Linked DNA regions of Homo sapiens. The protein of the gene in region 1 purifies or fractionates together with the protein of each later gene. This does not show direct contact. Each region holds a gene or a part of one and is shown on either strand. Other genes may lie near its edges. The genes, in order: FLI1, ARID2 and ARID1B.

Region 1 (3,653 bases):
ATGCTGGAGGTGCGTGATGCTGGGCTGGAGGGCATGCAGAGTGTGTTTGCCAGCCAGCTTCAGGGCGCCAGGTGGCCATGGGTGGGACTTCACCCCTCCAGACAGCTGCCCATCACCAGTGCTGCAAAATACCAGGTGCTGATCAAGTTCTGTAGTTCTAGGCTAAGTTGGATGATCTGCTTTCTCTCTTGTGAATGTCCATACTGCTTCCACAGTGAGCTTGGGGCCAGGGATGCAAAATGCCACAGGGCCACCACCTCTCCATCAGGTGGAAGTTCCTGGACTCCATTCCTTCTCCAAGTAGCAACCAGCTCTTTTGCATGTGTGCTTGATAGTGAAGCTTAACACAGAAGACCTGAGTCCTGTTTCCACCTTGACTAGCTGTGTGACTGAGCCAGGCAGCCCCTGTCTCGATTTCATTAACCATGAAAAGGAGATAGTAACCCTTGCTGTGCCTATCCTGGGGGCTTATTGGGAAATTCGAATACAACAGTGCATAAGAAATGCATTAAACTTATATATGTGCAATAGAAATAACTCACTGAGAAAGCATTTGCTGCTCACCTCCTGTAAGAATACTAGGGTTAAACAAAGAAAGTGATGACTATCCTCTCAAGAACTCAGCAGTCAGGGGGCGCAGGCCAAGCTGAGAATCAGACAGTGTGACAAGTCCTTATAACCAAGGCGGGCACCAAGTGCTGGGGGACTGTGGGGAAGGCGTGTCTGGGAGCATGGACTAGGTTGCCTGGCAGTGAGGCTAAAAATGTAAGCTGCAGTCAGACAGGGAGGGCTGCGATGCCACACAAAGAAGCTCAGACCTTGGTCTGAGGGCACTGAGGCGCTGCCAGCAGTTTTTACGTACTGTAATTATAGGATTGGGCTGGGATTTGAAGAAAACTCTGGTGGCAGCATGGAGGATAGAAAGAGGGCATCATCATCATCATGACACCAAGTGTGGCCGGGCAATGGCTCCATGCTCATCATCGGAGCCCTGGGCTCATGATTCAGAGGCTGAGGCAAGCTGCCCTGTCAGTGCTGACCGCCTCTGGGCTTTGTCTCTTCTCACTTTAGGGAGTCTCCGGTGGACTGCAGCGTTAGCAAATGCAGCAAGCTGGTGGGCGGAGGCGAGTCCAACCCCATGAACTACAACAGCTATATGGACGAGAAGAATGGCCCCCCTCCTCCCAACATGACCACCAACGAGAGGAGAGTCATCGTCCCCGCAGGTAATTCGAGAACCAGGCTGCCTGGGCGCCATTCACTTCCCCACTCTCTGGGGGGGCAGGGAGCATCTAAACCTTTATCTGATACTCTATTCCCTGTGGAATTGCAAAATGGAGAAAGCTGCACGCCAGCCGGGAGTGGTGGCTCGCGCCTGTAATCCCAGCACTTTGAGAGGCCAAGACGGGTGAATCACTTGTCAGGAGTTCAAGACCAGCCTAGCCAACGTGGTGAAACCTCATCTCTACTAAAAAAAAAAAAAAATACAAAAATTAGCCAGGTGTGGTAGTGGACGCTTATATTCCCAGCTACTCAGGGGGCTGAAGCAGGAGACTCGCTTTAACCGGGAAGGCGGAGGTTGCAGGGAGCCAAGATCACACCACTGCACTCCAGCCTGGGTGATGGAATGAGACTCTGTCTCAAAAAAAAAAAAAAAAAAAAAAAGCTGCACATTTTACCTGACTTCCTAGCTGCCCTTTAAGGCAGTATCCCAGATGTCACCTGATGTGTGGGTGCTAGAAGCCCCACCCTTAAACAGACCACATCACAGACTCTACATCAATGGCCTGGTCCTCAAGGACGGGCTGCTCAGAGAGCAGAGGCAAGGCCGCCTCCACCCAAAAGGAATCCCGTGAGCTCTGGATGTGGGCATCCCTGCCTGTGAGGAGGAGGTCAGCTGCAGAGGCCAGTCCTTCCCTCCAGGCTCGTACTTCCCGGCATCTACCAGGTTCCACCTTTCCAAAATTACAGCCAGCTCTTTCAGTTTTAAAATAGAAAGAACTATATTTAACTAATGGAGTGCCTTAACATGTGTGCCACAAGTTATGTCATTAGGTAAAAATAGCCTCTTTTTCCTAGGTGTTGGTGCTGTTGGTCCCAGAAAATAAAATCATCGTTCAGTCCTTCAGTCCATTGGCTGGACACTCCACCCCAGCTAGCACCAGCAAGCTCAGCTGCCTGCACAAGAAGGGTGTTTACAAACTGCCACGTGTAGAACTGGTGCCAGGTAGAAGGGGCAAGGATGTCCAAATCTTAAGCAAAGTGATTACAGGGCAGGGATTAAACCTGATCTTACCAAAATAACTTTACCAGAGAGGCAAAACTCCTTCCATTTGTAAAAGCATAAATGTAGTTGCCTCTGAAGTCAAAAGGTTAGACATCTCTTTGAGGTAGTCCGAAGGCATCTGCTTGTAGGTCTAAAGGCAGAAATGTTAAGGGCTGCCTCCTGCCTTGGCCCGTGGTGTTTGTTTTCCCTGGGAAGCTGCATCTCACCATATCCCTGGATTACAGCTGCCTCCCTGTGCTCTGGGCCAAATTCAAGAAGGTGTGAGCAAGAGTGAGGCAGCAGACGGGTGGGGCTTGTAGAAATTTCTCTGTACCCTTTAGGACTTAGAAATGACTCCTAAAGCAATTCTAAGTTTGCTCTTCCACAAGCATCTGACCTAACAAAGGAAGAGGAAGAATCACTTCCATTTATTGAGTGCTTTCTAGGTGCCAGGCACCACGTAAATTGCTTTATCTCCATGGCATTACTTAAAACACCTGTCACAGGAGACCAGCTAGTAATGTTTAGCCCAGGTGTATCGTCTCCCTCCTCACTGAAAGCAGACAATGAAACTGTATTAGAACTGACAGGTGGGAATCTCTTTGTACAGCCCAAAGCAAAGCTGAGCCTCACTGGGTCTTCACTCAAATGGTTTCAAACTCCCCTGCTTCAGTCAAACAGCTCCCAGCCTGGGAGGGAAAGCTTGCTGGACTGAAGGGTTTGGGGATCTGAGATTGTCTTTGAACCAACCTTTGGCACCATCTCATTTTGGTCGTCATTTTGGGGAAGGAATCTTGGAAATGGGCAGAAGTGGCCAGACTGCTATGTCGACCCTCCAAACTTTCTTTGATCAGTGTTGAAATGCTTTCAAAAGGAATAGCAAAACATCAGGCTTGGCTGAGCCAAGTTACCTATAGCGCTGGTGGTGAAAATAAAACAAATTCATGTCAAATGATTTTCAAAGCACTTTCAGGCTATGGATTTACTTCATTATTTTAGCTCCGGCTAGATCTTTTAGGTCCTCACACATTTTGGCTTCCTCCAGGCCAGGCTGTGGATATGAGGGGAAGTCTCATTTGGGCAAGTCCACAAATCAAGGCAATAAAATATTAGTGGAATAACCGATTGAATTTATGATGGGATTTAAAGACAAGTATAAATGTGGGCCCTAGTTAATCACTAGCTCCATGTTCAGATGGGAAGAAACTAGGACTAAATCATCCAGGAAATGCATTTGGAAGAGTTTAGCATGATCCAGAGTTGAAGATTTATAATTCATTGTGCTGTAGAGGGAGAGTAATAATATTGTTGCAGAGCCCAAAGCAAGGGAGGAAATAATAAAATAAATAAAATATATGGTGTAAAATTGAATTTGAGGCCTTGGATA
Region 2 (3,653 bases), on another chromosome or scaffold:
CTCCTGTCTGCGTTCCGCTCATGGTAATTCCTGCTGGAGCAATGAGCTGAGTTGCATTTCCCTGACTCACAGTTGCAGGTGCAAAACTCGTATTTGGCACAACTGTTATGGTTACCTGGTTGCCAGAAGTCCCTTGGAAAATGGTTGCTGGGCTATTTGAGATCAGTGGACCTGGCAATATTTGTAAGTTCGAAATGGGCACAGTTTGTACTCCCCCTGAGGGTGGCATTGCACTTGGGACCAACTGAACATTTTGCTGCCCAACCAATAGCTGCTGAGCTGGAGTTTGCCCCTGCACTCCAAAACCTGCGGCTTGGTTACTGGCCACCTGATAGACCACCTGAGGGCTAGGAGCTCTTGCATTATTAGGGGGAGGAATCTGTGGAGCTGGGAGAATAAGCTTACCACCTGGTGTTGAAGGACCACGTTTCGGAAGCAGAAGCTGTTTAATCAGACTCGACTCACCAGAGGCAGGCTGACCAACTCCTGCATTCGACTGTTGAGGTTGAACTTGCATCTGTACTTGTTGGGGCTGCTGAACTTGTACTTGTACCTGCTGTGGTGGGGGTGCTGGTGAATGTTGCTGCTGTTGCTGCCTTTTCACAGATAACATTTGACTGACAGTAGGAGGTGGTCCCTGTGATTGAGGGGTAGAGGACGACGACATGGCAGTAGGGACTTGGTTATTAGTAGCTGGGACAGGTGATGGTGAAGAAGATGGAGTTATGTTAGGTTGTCCAGTTAGCTGAACTGTCTGACCAGCTGGAAGAGCTGCTGGATTAGCAAGAACAATTTGGTGAATGGCTGGTGCATAAGTTTGACCTTGTTGAGCTGGCTGGCTTACAATCACTACGCTTTGTTGGGTTGGCTGCTGTGGTTGTTGAATAGGCTGCTGTACCACTGTAGATGAAACTTGCTGAGAAGGGAGAGGTTTTGGTGCAATGTTCTGAAACCCTACCCTTGAGGCTTGTGGACTTGGGACACCAGCAATAGTAACCATTTGTCCTGTAGCTACCTGAAAATTCTGTACTGAAGTTGCTGAGACAATATTGGATGCAGAAGTTGTTACATACTGTGGGGGTGCTATGATAACAGTATCTTGTGACTGGCTACCAGCTGATGTCTGTTGAGATGAAGTTTGCACAGGTTGGGGTGATGTGGTGATTAACTGTTGACCCTGTGAAACTGTAGAAGTACATGCTGGTATGTTCTGTACTCTGCCAAACATATGACTCTGTGGGACAGCTTGTTGAATTACTGTAACAGGAGTGCCTGAAGGGATCTGTCCTGGTACCACTGTGTGTAATGGAGACTGCTGTGGAATTACAGATGGATGGTGAAGCAATGTCTGAGAATTCACAACTGTAACAGGTTGTGGCCCTGTACTATGATTCTGAACAACAGAACTCTGTGGAGGTCCTCCTCCAACAGCAATACTAACAGGAACTCCTGTCTGGGGTATGGAATTCTGGATAACTGTAGCCTTAACAACTTCACAAGGAATTGGAGCTTTACTTTGAATGACAGTCACTGGAGCATTTTGTTGCTGGTGGGTATGAGGTGAAGGATTTTGTGGAATTCTTGAAACAGTTTGTGCCACAGTATGAACACCTTGTACAGGAAAAGACATTTGTGTTGCAGTCAGATTTGAAGATTGGTTGGCAACAGGAGTCCTCTGAAAATGGTTTCCTATGGTTTGTGATCCATGAGGGATTCCTGAAAATATGAAGAAAACGTCAAAATTCCAAATGAAATGACTGAAAATCCCAAGTAGGAATTATTTTACTTAAGAGAAAATAGTTTTAAGAAATTAACATCTAACAATTTTGAATCATATGAATATGGTAATAGACCAAGTAAGAAAATGCTACTGGAGACACAAAAGTTATACATTTAAAATGCATAGAATATATATTTTTCATTCAGTTTTATTATTAAATCAGTAATACTTTAAAAATACAATAAAAATTAACACCTGCAGGTGAAGGAGCAGGAGATACATCAGGAACAGAATCAACACGAACAACAGAAGTAGAAACTGGTTGCTGCTGATAGTACATCTGAATGGGAAGTGGTATAGCCCTCCGTTTTACTCCTACCACATGAATATGTGCCTGCCCATTGCTACTGGAATCCTCCACTCTCTTCACTGTATGATTTGGAAAGACCGTTCTGTAAAGTACATACATAATCAGTAAGTTTTGATAACTATCACATTGACTTCTAACATTATGTTTACATGAACAACAGCAGTATGTTTACTGTTGCTTATGTATGAACCAGTATGACTCACAGTTATATTCTGCAAGGATGGAAAGCAAAGAAATATAAAAGATTAATCATCCCATTTAAAACATCATTATTTATTAACAATGTCGCTGGGTTTTAAACAATTCCACCCACATATAACTAATAAAAGATACCTATTTTTATGTACTTTGCAAAATATCAAAAAGTCTTTGTATTTGAAGATAATAATATTATATTCTATTATTCAAGATTAAAAAGATACAGTCATGTCTTTAACATGTAAAAGTAGGTAGGAAAAAGAAAGTAAACTTCATTTCTTTGATAAATCTCATAATGTTCCAACACAAACACTAGATGTGATTTCTGAAACTGCTTTTTATTTAAACCTCCACCACACTATAACCTATCCATACGAAACTTCTAGTAGTAGAAATATTTAAAACTAGATAAGATATTTGGTATTTTCTTTAAAGAGCAAGAGATGTTGTAAGTGACGTAAATGGACTTTATTTAAAGAACTATGGATCCTACCTAAGACATTTATAAAATCCAGTTGATGTTAGGATTCCACCACGAGCTAATTTACTGCAAGTCGAGAGGTATTCAGAATACATTTCTGCTCGAGAAACAGAACAATCTGGATTTACTTCAAAATGAGCATTTAGCCTAAAAGAGGAGAAAAATTAAGCATTATACAATATACTCTAGGAAACTCCATATTTAAATATACTAAAGCCATGTGGAGGCAATGTGTTAAAACTAATAATTATACCTACTAATCAAATTTCACTGACTCATACGTTAGTAGCAAAAATATATGCTAAATTTTAGATTAAATCAATAGATTAACATGCTTATTTTAGTATTAAAAATGACACTGACAACAAATATAAAAACTATGTTCACATCCCAATGAGAGCAGGGTTGGTCTGCTGACAACAAATGTTCTATAAGAAATAGTTTTATTTAGTGAATATCTATTCGGCATCCTGTCTTGTAATAATCATAACATAAAACAAGTTCCCAATTACGTGCTATTTGCATTGTAGCTGAAGAAAATGGGGGGAAACTGAACTAAGGTTAAACTTTCCTTGGCTCTTGGATCAAATTCCTTCAGAAAAAACTTATCCAAGCTTTTCAGCTACTTCCTAAAACAATGACACTTTCCATGCTGCACACTCCCATTTCCCCATTTCAAAACAGTTTTAATTTGTAATCCATTACAAACTAATTCAAACCTCATTTTGTCTTTTTCTTAAAATGACCTTTACCTATAAATTGGGATTGGAGGCCTGATTACCCTGATAGGCTCTTTCCATAACTCACTATGTATAATAGGCTAAACTTAGTTTTTCTGAAAAACTAAATCAAATAGTAATTATGATTTAAAAAAAAAACTGTAA
Region 3 (4,055 bases), on another chromosome or scaffold:
GAGACTTGTGCTGGAGACCCTCTGTAAACTCAGTATCCAGGACAATAATGTGGACCTGATCTTGGCCACTCCTCCATTTAGTCGTCAGGAGAAATTCTATGCTACATTAGTTAGGTACGTTGGGGATCGCAAAAACCCAGTCTGTCGAGAAATGTCCATGGCGCTTTTATCGAACCTTGCCCAAGGGGACGCACTAGCAGCAAGGGCCATAGCTGTGCAGAAAGGAAGCATTGGAAACTTGATAAGCTTCCTAGAGGATGGGGTCACGATGGCCCAGTACCAGCAGAGCCAGCACAACCTCATGCACATGCAGCCCCCGCCCCTGGAACCACCTAGCGTAGACATGATGTGCAGGGCGGCCAAGGCTTTGCTAGCCATGGCCAGAGTGGACGAAAACCGCTCGGAATTCCTTTTGCACGAGGGCCGGTTGCTGGATATCTCGATATCAGCTGTCCTGAACTCTCTGGTTGCATCTGTCATCTGTGATGTACTGTTTCAGATTGGGCAGTTATGACATAAGTGAGAAGGCAAGCATGTGTGAGTGAAGATTAGAGGGTCACATATAACTGGCTGTTTTCTGTTCTTGTTTATCCAGCGTAGGAAGAAGGAAAAGAAAATCTTTGCTCCTCTGCCCCATTCACTATTTACCAATTGGGAATTAAAGAAATAATTAATTTGAACAGTTATGAAATTAATATTTGCTGTCTGTGTGTATAAGTACATCCTTTGGGGTTTTTTTTTTCTCTTTTTTTTAACCAAAGTTGCTGTCTAGTGCATTCAAAGGTCACTTTTTGTTCTTCACAGATCTTTTTAATGTTCTTTCCCATGTTGTATTGCATTTTTGGGGGAAGCAAATTGACTTTAAAGAAAAAAGTTGTGGCAAAAGATGCTAAGATGCGAAAATTTCACCACACTGAGTCAAAAAGGTGAAAAATTATCCATTTCCTATGCGTTTTACTCCTCAGAGAATGAAAAAAACTGCATCCCATCACCCAAAGTTCTGTGCAATAGAAATTTCTACAGATACAGGTATAGGGGCTCAAGGAGGTATGTCGGTCAGTAGTCAAAACTATGAAATGATACTGGTTTCTCCACAGGAATATGGTTCCATTAGGCTGGGAGCAAAAACAATGTTTTTTAAGATTGAGAATACATACCTGACAACGATCCGGAAACTGCTCCTCACCACTCCCGTCATGCCTGCTGTCGGCGTTTGACCTTCCACGTGACAGTTCTTCACAATTCCTTTCATCATTTTTTAAATATTTTTTTTACTGCCTATGGGCTGTGATGTATATAGAAGTTGTACATTAAACATACCCTCATTTTTTTCTTTTCTTTTTTTTTTTTTTTTTTAGTACAAAGTTTTAGTTTCTTTTTCATGATGTGGTAACTACGAAGTGATGGTAGATTTAAATAATTTTTTATTTTTATTTTATATATTTTTTCATTAGGGCCATATCTCCAAAAAAAGAAAGAAAAAATACAAAAAACAAAAACAAAAAAAAAAGAGGGTAATGTACAAGTTTCTGTATGTATAAAGTCATGCTCGATTTCAGGAGAGCAGCTGATCACAATTTGCTTCATGAATCAAGGTGTGGAAATGGTTATATATGGATTGATTTAGAAAATGGTTACCAGTACAGTCAAAAAAGAGAAAATGAAAAAAATACAACTAAAAGGAAGAAACACAACTTCAAAGATTTTTCAGTGATGAGAATCCACATTTGTATTTCAAGATAATGTAGTTTAAAAAAAAAAAAAAGAAAAAAACTTGATGTAAATTCCTCCTTTTCCTCTGGCTTAATGAATATCATTTATTCAGTATAAAATCTTTATATGTTCCACATGTTAAGAATAAATGTACATTAAATCTTGTTAAGCACTGTGATGGGTGTTCTTGAATACTGTTCTAGTTTCCTTAAAGTGGTTTCCTAGTAATCAAGTTATTTACAAGAAATAGGGGAATGCAGCAGTGTATTCACATTATAAAACCCTACATTTGGAAGAGACCTTTAGGGGTTACCTACTTTAGAGTGGGGAGCAACAGTTTGATTTTCTCAAATTACTTAGCTAATTAGTCTTTCTTTGAAGCAATTAACTCTAACGACATTGAGGTATGATCATTTTCAGTATTTATGGGAGGTGGCTGCTGACCCACTTGAGGTGAGATCTCAGAAGCTTAACTGGCCTGAAAATGTAACATTCTGCCTTTTACTAACTCCATCTTAGTTTAATCAAAGTTCAATCTATTCCTTGTTTCTTCTGTGTGCCTCAGAGTTATTTTGCATTTAGTTTACTCCACCGTGTATAATATTTATACTGTGCAATGTTAAAAAAGAATCTGTTATATTGTATGTGGTGTACATAGTGCAAAGTGATGATTTCTATTTCAGGGCATATTATGGTTCTCATATTCCTTCCTACCTGGTGCACAGTAGCTTTTTAATACTAGTCACTTCTAATTTAAACTTTCTCTTCCTGGGTCATTGACTGTTACTGTGTAATAATCGATTTCTTTGAAACTGCTGCATAATTATGCTGTTAGTGGACCTCTACCTCTTCTCTTCCCTCTCCCAATCACAGTATACTCAGAATCCCCAGCCCCTCGCATACATTGTGTCGGTTCACATTACTCACAGTAATATATGGAAGAGTTAGACAAGAACATGCAGTTACAGTCATTGTGAGACGTGACTCTCCAGTGTCACGAGGAAAAAAATCATCTTTTCTGCAAACAGTCTCTCATCTGTCAACTCCCACATTACTGAGTCAAACAGTCTTCTTACATAACAATGCAACCAAATATATGTTGAATTAAAGACCCATTTATAATTCTGCTTTAAATACATCTGCTTGCTAAGAACAGATTTCAGTGCTCCAAGCTTCAAATATGGAGATTTGTAAGAGGGAATTCAATATTATTCTAATTTCTCTCTTACAGAGTACAAATAAAAGGTGTATACAAACTCCGAACATATCCAGTATTCCAATTCCTTTGTCAATCAGAAGAGTAAAATAATTAACAAAAGACTGTTGTTATGGTTTGCATTGTAACCGATACGCAGAGTCTGACCGTTGGGCAACAAGTTTTTCTATCCTGATGCGCAACACAGTCTCTAGAGACTAATCCAGGAAGACTTTAGCCTCCTTTCCATATTCTCACCCCCGAATCAAGATTTACAGAAGCCCACGAAGAATTTACAGCCTGCTTGAGATCATCTTGCCTATAAACTGAGTTATTGCTTTGTCCTAAAAATTAGTCGGTTTTTTTTTTTCTATGAGGCTTTTCAGAAATTTACAGGATGCCCAGACTTTACATGTGTACCAAAAAAAAAAAAAAGATAAAAAATAAAGGTGCAAAGAAAGTTTAGTATTTTGGAATGGTGCTATAAAGTTGAATCTGTTGGTATTTGAGTGGATTTTTTTAATGTCACATAAGAGATACTGGGCGGCGTCTGCTCAGCAATAGCTATTCACAGTGTTTTGTTCGAGGAAGAGAATGATATAGAAGCATGTTTTACTGATGAAGGTGGCCTGTTCAAAGACTAGTTAAGCTGTTTTTTCAGAGTTATAATGAAGAATGATTTTTTTAAGGGCATATGGGCAGTCTCATACAATGTAAGCTATTAACTACCTCCTTTATGAAAAGAAGCCAGCCTTTGCCCTGAAGTCCATCCATTTAAAACTGTTGGAAATCTTTCATTTCCTATCAAACCACATGTACCTGTTCCCATGTCTGTTCACCTTTGAGGAAGCAAAGAAAGTATTATAAATGAGCCACAAATGGACAGTGCAAACAGTCCCTGTTCTTCTTGCTGAGTGTTGGTTCACTTCTTTATTTCGAGGGCCGTGGCCCAGCTGCCTGAAGTCCTGCTCAGCACCAGCCTAGAAGAACTTGGAAGTAAACTTCATGGTCAGGCAAGATTGTTAAAAACTCTGATGAATACACTTGGTAGCAGCATTTAATCTGCGAACAGGCAACATTACTCATGAATTTAACAGAGATGTGTTGAGCACATGCTATGTGCCTGGCTCTGTTCTAGGCTCTGAGG

Evidence for each region.
Region 2: the proteins of FLI1 (region 1) and ARID2 purify together in Homo sapiens (affinity purification with mass spectrometry, with the first as the bait; one large-scale study listed by BioGRID). This does not show direct contact.
Region 3: the proteins of FLI1 (region 1) and ARID1B purify together in Homo sapiens (affinity purification with mass spectrometry, with the first as the bait; one large-scale study listed by BioGRID). This does not show direct contact.

Annotation. Positions count from the first base shown.
Region 1 is NC_000011.10:128,767,047-128,770,699, forward strand, and holds part of FLI1 (Friend leukemia integration 1 transcription factor), read left to right. Parts: intron 1-1,071; coding exon 1,072-1,226; intron 1,227-3,653. UniProt on the Homo sapiens protein: Sequence-specific transcriptional activator. Recognizes the DNA sequence 5'-C[CA]GGAAGT-3'.
Region 2 is NC_000012.12:45,848,099-45,851,751, reverse strand, and holds part of ARID2 (AT-rich interactive domain-containing protein 2), read right to left. Parts: intron 2,917-3,653; coding exon 2,782-2,916; intron 2,195-2,781; exon of another isoform or gene 2,173-2,194; coding exon 1,976-2,172; intron 1,717-1,975; coding exon 1-1,716. UniProt on the Homo sapiens protein: Involved in transcriptional activation and repression of select genes by chromatin remodeling (alteration of DNA-nucleosome topology). Required for the stability of the SWI/SNF chromatin remodeling complex SWI/SNF-B (PBAF).
Region 3 is NC_000006.12:157,207,378-157,211,432, forward strand, and holds the end of ARID1B (AT-rich interactive domain-containing protein 1B), read left to right. Parts: coding exon 1-514; 3' UTR 515-3,402; downstream 3,403-4,055. UniProt on the Homo sapiens protein: Involved in transcriptional activation and repression of select genes by chromatin remodeling (alteration of DNA-nucleosome topology).